Homo sapiens: one gene and its partner. The protein of the gene in region 2 purifies or fractionates together with the protein of the main gene of each other region. This does not show direct contact. Each region holds a gene or a part of one and is shown on either strand. Other genes may lie near its edges.

Evidence for each region. The genes of interacting proteins can lie anywhere in the genome.
Region 1: the proteins of MADD (region 2) and ECT2 purify together in Homo sapiens (affinity purification with mass spectrometry; one large-scale study listed by BioGRID and IntAct). This does not show direct contact.

What each region holds. Positions count from the first base shown.
Region 1 is NC_000003.12:172,760,608-172,764,259, forward strand, and holds part of ECT2 (protein ECT2), read left to right. Parts: intron 1-1,002; coding exon 1,003-1,076; intron 1,077-1,808; coding exon 1,809-1,939; intron 1,940-2,083; coding exon 2,084-2,199; intron 2,200-2,302; coding exon 2,303-2,365; intron 2,366-3,652. UniProt on the Homo sapiens protein: Guanine nucleotide exchange factor (GEF) that catalyzes the exchange of GDP for GTP. Promotes guanine nucleotide exchange on the Rho family members of small GTPases, like RHOA, RHOC, RAC1 and CDC42.
Region 2 is NC_000011.10:47,322,091-47,325,742, forward strand, and holds part of MADD (MAP kinase-activating death domain protein), read left to right. Parts: intron 1-1,580; coding exon 1,581-1,745; intron 1,746-2,174; coding exon 2,175-2,247; intron 2,248-2,380; coding exon 2,381-2,487; intron 2,488-3,171; exon of another isoform or gene 3,172-3,243; intron 3,244-3,652. UniProt on the Homo sapiens protein: Guanyl-nucleotide exchange factor that regulates small GTPases of the Rab family. Converts GDP-bound inactive form of RAB27A and RAB27B to the GTP-bound active forms.

The DNA.
Region 1 (3,652 bases), on a different chromosome or scaffold from region 2:
GGAACTTGAGTGAGGTGTTGAAAGATGACTAGGATCGTGGGGGTTGGTAGATGAATAACATTGTAGGAATTGTGAAAGTAGGGAATTTACTCTTGTCTAAGTGCCTTTTTTTTTTTTTTTTTTTTTTTTTTGAGACTGAGTCTCTCTCTGTCACCCAGGCTGGAGTGCAGTGGTGCCATCTCGGCTCACTGCAAGCTCCGCCTCCTGGGTTCACGCCATTCTCCTGCCTCAGCCTCCCGAGTAGCTGGGACTACAGGTGCGCACCACCATGCCCGGCTAATTTTTGTAGTTTTCATAGAGACAGGGTTTCACCATATTGGCCAGGGTGGTCTCAAACTCCCGACCTCAGGTGATCTGCCTGCCTCGGACTCCCAAAGTGGTGGGATTACAGGCATGAGCCACTGTGCCTGGCTGTCTAAGTGCCCTTCATAAGAACAGAGCTCTGCTCTTATAAAGTGGTTCTAAGATTTAACTTGTGAATATTATAATAGGAGAAAATACTCTCACTAGGATTGAATCTTAGTTTAAGATTATAGTTGAATGTCTTAGCAAGAGTTTATCATTTTTTCTTAGTCTCCCTTAGTGTATTTGTGTAGCAAATGGTAATTTTAGTGTACTCTTCAATTTACCCTAAATATTTCAACTCATATCTAAGGTTTTAGTGACTTAGTCGGATGTCTTCTTCTGTAGTGCCATCTTGAGGGTCATACTTTCAAGGAAGTAAACGTGAAGAAAGGAGAAATAGAAATTTAATAAAGATGAACTTCAGAGATATATTTATTTAAAATAAGGAAACAGTTCGGACACCATGGAACTTGTTTTGAAGTTATTTTACCCTAACTTGTATGATTGGAAGATAGTTTGTCTGTTAATTTTTAAATTATTTTGTTACAAAGCAGATAGTGATCTAAAACTGCAAAAAATTAAGTATGTTAACTGTTTAGAACTTCCTTGAATGCAGTTATTTAAGGAGAAAATTCACTGTAATGTTTATATTTTTAGGTTGCTGTGAGTCTAGGTACTCCAATTATGAAGCCAGAATGGATTTATAAAGCTTGGGAAAGGCGGAATGAACAGTAAGTGTTTAGAAACTCAGTAGTTCATTATGTAAATTAAACATTCTGGTTTAAAGATAAATCCATGTGCTGAAAAAAGTAATTTCATAGATATAAAAACTGAATTCAGTCTGAGTAGCTTGAGGAATAAAATCTAGGGAGAACAAGTTATAAAAAATTATAAAAAATTAAAAATTGAAAGATATCTTTGATATCTTTGGATTTTACCTTGTGAAGTAATTTTGGCTATTATAAACATTCTGAAATTATTAGATAATAGCTAAATAATTCTGTGTATTTGGATTTTGTTACATATTTTTAAAATTTTGTGTTATCTGGTTACATTTTAATTGGTGCTTGAAATTTATTGCCTTGTTTTGCTTAGTTTTCCAAGCGCATGATTTCTTGCTGTGGCACTTCATGAATTAAGATTTCATGAAAGTTATCATTATTTTAGATTTCATGAAAGCCTTGGAACACAGTACATATAAATCTTCAAATAATAGAGAAAAAATTTGAATCTCTTGTAAAGCTTATCTGTGATCACATTTTGTCAGAAGTTACTTTTGGGATGACAGGACACATCATTTTTTTAAACTGAAGTTTTTGTGAGCATTTCAGGACCAAATATTAAATAGTTTCAATAGATAGATTATGCCAAGACCTTGAAAATTACTGTAGGTTTGTAAATTGATATACCTAACACTTGAATTTAAGTTAAACTGGTTTTGGAAGAGTGTATTTTGTTTTTAGGGATTTCTATGCAGCAGTTGATGACTTTAGAAATGAATTTAAAGTTCCTCCATTTCAAGATTGTATTTTAAGTTTCCTGGGATTTTCAGATGAAGAGAAAACCAATATGGAAGAAATGACTGAAATGCAAGGTAAAATTTAGCATAATGTAAAAGTTATATCTATTTTAGTCCCTAGGCCTGCTTAATCACTTCCTGGTCAATATACCTCTTAAAAAATTTGAGTTTGGAAATAAGTAGCTTGGCTTATTTATGCTTATGTGCATTCCTTTTTAGGAGGTAAATATTTACCGCTTGGAGATGAAAGATGCACTCACCTTGTAGTTGAAGAGAATATAGTAAAAGATCTTCCCTTTGAACCTTCAAAGAAACTTTATGTTGTCAAGCAAGAGGCAAGTAATTCTAGAATGAGGTTGGTTTTTAAAAACACTATTAATAGCTTCTCTGATAAAATAAATGTAAACTGTTTATTAAAATGTTTTTTCTCTCACCTAGTGGTTCTGGGGAAGCATTCAAATGGATGCCCGAGCTGGAGAAACTATGTATTTATATGAAAAGGTATGCTTTTAACCCCTTACTTATTTGTTCTGTGAGCTTGATTGTTTGAAAATAACACTTTTCTGTCCAGAAGGTTTAGAAGCATGTTTAGGAATTTCAGAATGATTAAAACAATTGGGATATCAAGTTATCTTAGTCTATGTAGATTTAAGTGGAACTATTCAATGTAATGTGTATTATTTTAACCTAATATATGTTGTTCTGTGCGAATTCTTGGTGATAACATTACGAACAAGAACATCTCTATCTTCAGAAACTTAGACTTTTAATGGAAAGATAGATTTGTACGTAGTTAACGATGGGGAATGATGTGTGCCACAACTGAGTAATGTATTTTAGGTAGCCTCGCTCTGAGAGACTCAGGAGGGAATAAAAAGGTGAAATAAATGTTGACCCAACTTACTAGGCCAACTAGGTAAGGACATTCGTTAGAACCCCAATTGGGAGAGGGTATGAAAGCTTTGAGAGTACATTAAAATAACAAGTAGTTTAGTATGGCTTTACAGTGTGGGAAGGAAGGCCAACAGATAAAACTTAATGGATAGATAGAATCAAGAAGTTTTTAATACATTAATGAGCTTGGATATTATCCTATAACTATTGGGAGCCATTGAAGAAGAGTAAGGGGAGAGACGTCATTAAAAAGATGAGTTTGATAGTAGAATATCGTTAAGGAAAATCTAGTGTTTATGGTGAATCTTGGTGAAGAGTAGTATCACTCACCAAAATGACAAAGTTATGGAAGTAGTCTTTAAGGGAAGATTTACTTCAGTTTAGGATTTAATAACTTTGTGTGGAATATTGAAGATGAGTTGTTTCTGTAAAATCTATATAGTACCATATTGTGTTCTCTTCAGAGTCTTTGAAATGTGAAGTTCTTAAAGTTTAAAAAGTGTGCTTTAGATTTAGGGAGAGAACTCTTAAAAATCAAGTGTTACTCAGCACATATTGGAAAGCATTGTGTCCAGGCACTGTGCTAGGGATACAGCGAACAGACTGTGAATGGCCCCTGCCTTCTTGGAGTTGATGAGCTAATGAAGGAGCAGGTAGTAAACAAGTTTACAGATGAAAATATAATAGTGATAGTGGCTATGAAGAAAAATGAGGTGCTTGAGGTTAGACAATTACAGTCGTCTCTTGACTATTATGTTTTATGAAACTTTTGAATTGCCTGGTAGAGTGTAGGGTTATAAAATTATTGTGCAAAATCCAGATTCTGTCAGACTTGTAAATATATTTTTCTCTTGTTCCTGTCTCAGTAAAGAACCATGGAAGTAAATTGAGCTT
Region 2 (3,652 bases):
AAATACTTTATGCACATTAACTCATTTAGTCTTCATAGTAACTGTAGGAAGTTATTACTGTTACTATCCCCATCTTACCTGTGAGGAATTGTGGACACAGATGAACTTGCTCAGGGTGGCACAGCTCAGTAATGGCAGAGCTGGAATCTAAACTCAGGCTGACTTTAGACCTGTGCCCTTCACCATTGTGCTGTAATGTCTCCCGTAACATTTGAAGCCTTAAGAACGGATAACTGGCTGCGCATGGTGGCTCACGTCTGTAATCCCAGCACTTTGGGAGGCCGAGGCGGGCGGATCATGAAGTCAGGAGATCAAGACTATCCTTGCTAACACGGTGAAACCCCGTCTCTACTTAAAAAAATATATAAAAAATTAGCCGGGCATGGTGGTGGGTGCCTGTAGTCCCAGCTACTCGAGAGGCTGAGGCAGGAGAATGGCGTGAACCTGGGAGGCGGAGCTTGCAGTGAGACGGGATTGCGCCACTGCACTCCAGCCTGGGCGACAGAGCGAGATCCGTCTCAAAAAGAAGAACAGATAACTTCACCTGAAAGAGAATGTTGAACAAGAAGGTGTCAAAGATATTTGCTTTTTAATTTATATCATCCTGTATTGTATCATTTTTATGTAATAAGCATTGTTCATGTGTCACTTGTGTAATTAATTTTTAAAAATATTTTTATAGAAAAAGGGTAGACCCAGGATTAGAAAGTGCATCAGCTCCATTTTTCTCCTTGGTTAAGTCTGTCATGATCTCCTACCTTTGTGTTTGTCAACAAAGATGATTCCTGAGCTTGTAAGATGGAGGCATGAGATCTCCTCCAAATACTTTAAGTCCGTAGAGCACATAAGAGGTAATAAATAACTGGGCCGGGCGCGGTGGCTCACGCCTGTAATCCCAGCACTTTGGGAGGCCAAGACGGGTGTATCACTTGAGGTCAGGAGTTCGAGACCAGCCTGGCCAACATGGTGAAACCCTGTCTCTACTAAAAATACAAAAATTAGCTGAGCATGGTGATGTGTGCCTGTAATCTCAGCTACTCGGGAGGCTGAGGCAGGAGAATCATTTTAACCCACAAGGCAGAGGTTGCAGTGAGTCGAGATTGCACCACTGCACTCCAGCCTGGGCAACAGAGTGGGACTCCATCTCAAAAAAAAAAAAAAAAAATTATAGCCAATGTGATGGTGTGCACCTGTAGTCCCTGCTACTTTGGGGGCTGAGGCAGGAAGAACCTGGCTGGTCGAGGCTGCAGTGAGCTGAGATGGCGCCACTGCAGTCAAGCCTGGGGTACAAAGTGAGACCCTGTCTCAAAAAAAAAAAAAAGAGGTAATAAATAACTGATTGATTTGTGCCTCCTCCCTTATACATCGGTTCCTTCTAATGACTCCATCTCTTCCAACAATCCTTGTAGCAGGCAGCATGTCAGTAGTTCTGTTTTGTGTCTTCACCTAGGGAAACCATGAGCGTAAGGCAGAAAACCTGACCATGGGGATGCCCCAGGACCACCTTTCCCTGTAGGAAACAGTCTAGGGAGAGGCTGTCAGAGACAGGAACCACTGAGCCGCTTTGTGCACTTCTCCAGGTGTGCGATGACTGTGTGGTGTTGCGTAGTAACATCGGAACAGTGTATGAGCGCTGGTGGTACGAGAAGCTCATCAACATGACCTACTGTCCCAAGACGAAGGTGTTGTGCTTGTGGCGTAGAAATGGCTCTGAGACCCAGCTCAACAAGTTCTATACTAAAAAGGTACGCAGGATCTGTGTTTGGGTTGGGGCTAGTAGGCATTGAAGACCAAATAGTGAATTTCTCTTTGGGAAGTTAAAATTCCAAAACACACATCTGGAGCCACACTTCTGTCTCCAGCTGTTGGGTGGAGTACCTAAAGCTGTCTCTGTCAAGCCAACTAGGCCTAATAGTAGTCACAATCGGTATTAACCAACCATATCTAGCATTCCTACACATCTGTACCCATGCCTTCTTTAAAGCCATACTATTCATATGCTCCGGATCTATCATTCATAACCTCAACAATGAATAAGACATCCGAAAAATAGGAGGACTACTTAAAATTTTACCCCTCACTTCAACCTCCAGCCTTCAGTGGCCATTATAGAGCAGTGGGTGGGGAACCCTGGACAGCCCTCATGATGGGACCACTCTCCCCCTGTGCCACAGTGTCGGGAGCTGTACTACTGTGTGAAGGACAGCATGGAGCGCGCTGCCGCCCGACAGCAAAGCATCAAACCCGGTGAGGAGAGTTTTTCCTGAGAGTGTCTTCCCTGTTTCTACCAGTCCTTCTGAGTGTCAGGGGCCTGGCAGGGAAGTCAGGGGTGGGATTCCCCACCTCACCAGTGAGCTGATAGCCCCCTCCCTCACCACAGGACCTGAATTGGGTGGCGAGTTCCCTGTGCAGGACCTGAAGACTGGTGAGGGTGGCCTGCTGCAGGTGACCCTGGAAGGGATCAACCTCAAATTCATGCACAATCAGGTAGGTGCGAGCGGCAGCACGAGGCTCCCTGTCGTTCCATCTGTAAGAAGGACCAATGTCCAAGCCCCCAGTACTTCCCCAGCAAGCATGAGAGAGGGCCCTCTGGAGCTAGAGGGAGAACTGGAGCAGCTGGACCCAGGAAAGAAACCCCAGGGGAGGGCACAGTGACGTTGGCGACCACCTGGCGCTGTGAAGGTGCACCAGGGAGCCCGTGGGGGAGGCTGGGCAGGAGCGAGGCCAGGTGGCCACGCTGCCCCATCCGTTGGACTCCACACAGTGTGAGTGGGAGCGTCTCACTTGGCCCTTCCCCTGCAGTGTCTCTGCCTTCCTCTATTCCCAGGATATGCTTCTGCTTGGTGGTTTTGCTTTGAGAGTCTAGACTGGCCGATCTCCTTGTGTCTTTCTGGTGTGCGTGCAGCTTGCGTGTGCGTGCGTGCGTGCCTGCGTGCTTGTGTGTAAGTAGCTTGTATCTGTCCTCTCTGGAGTGTGTTTATTTGCCTTTTTCTTCTGCGGATTCTTCTTCCTGTTCTTTTCCTTCCTCTGAGTGTTCCCACTCTGTCCCCTGCTCCACAGGCCCCATTCCCTTTCTTTTGATTGGGGAGCACTTGTGGATACATCTTTCCCTCATTGTAATTCCACCATAGGAGCTGACTTTTTTTTTTCTCTCTTGGTCTTTTAACACAGTGTTACCTTTTTCTCTCAGTGGACATTCCTTAAGCTAATTCCTTTCTGAGGCCAGCGCATCATCCCAGGTCCGTTCACAGCTCTGACTCCTCACACAAGTGCCTTCCCTCCTCTTTCCCTGATGTCCGGGTTCCTCTCCCTGAGGCTCTGAGCCAGACCCAAATGTGTGAAGCCCCACAGACCCTGGCCAGGCCGCAGACCCTCAGGGGAGGTGGATGCCTGACTGACGTGGCTGTCTCCCTCCCTCCGCTAGCCGTTGTAGCTCTCTTTCAGGAACGTAGCTGGGCAGCTTTGGTTTAACAGGAAATGGCTGCGCAGGCTGCCAGCAGCCCCTTAGTATATTTTCAATTTAGGACTTAGGGCAGTAGCCAACCCCAAAGACCTTAGGACCATCCCAGAGAGGGGTCTACCTAAGTGCTTTTCTGGACCACAAAGGTGTCAGTACTTCTTGGGGAGCAGACTTCTGACCACATTTTAGCGC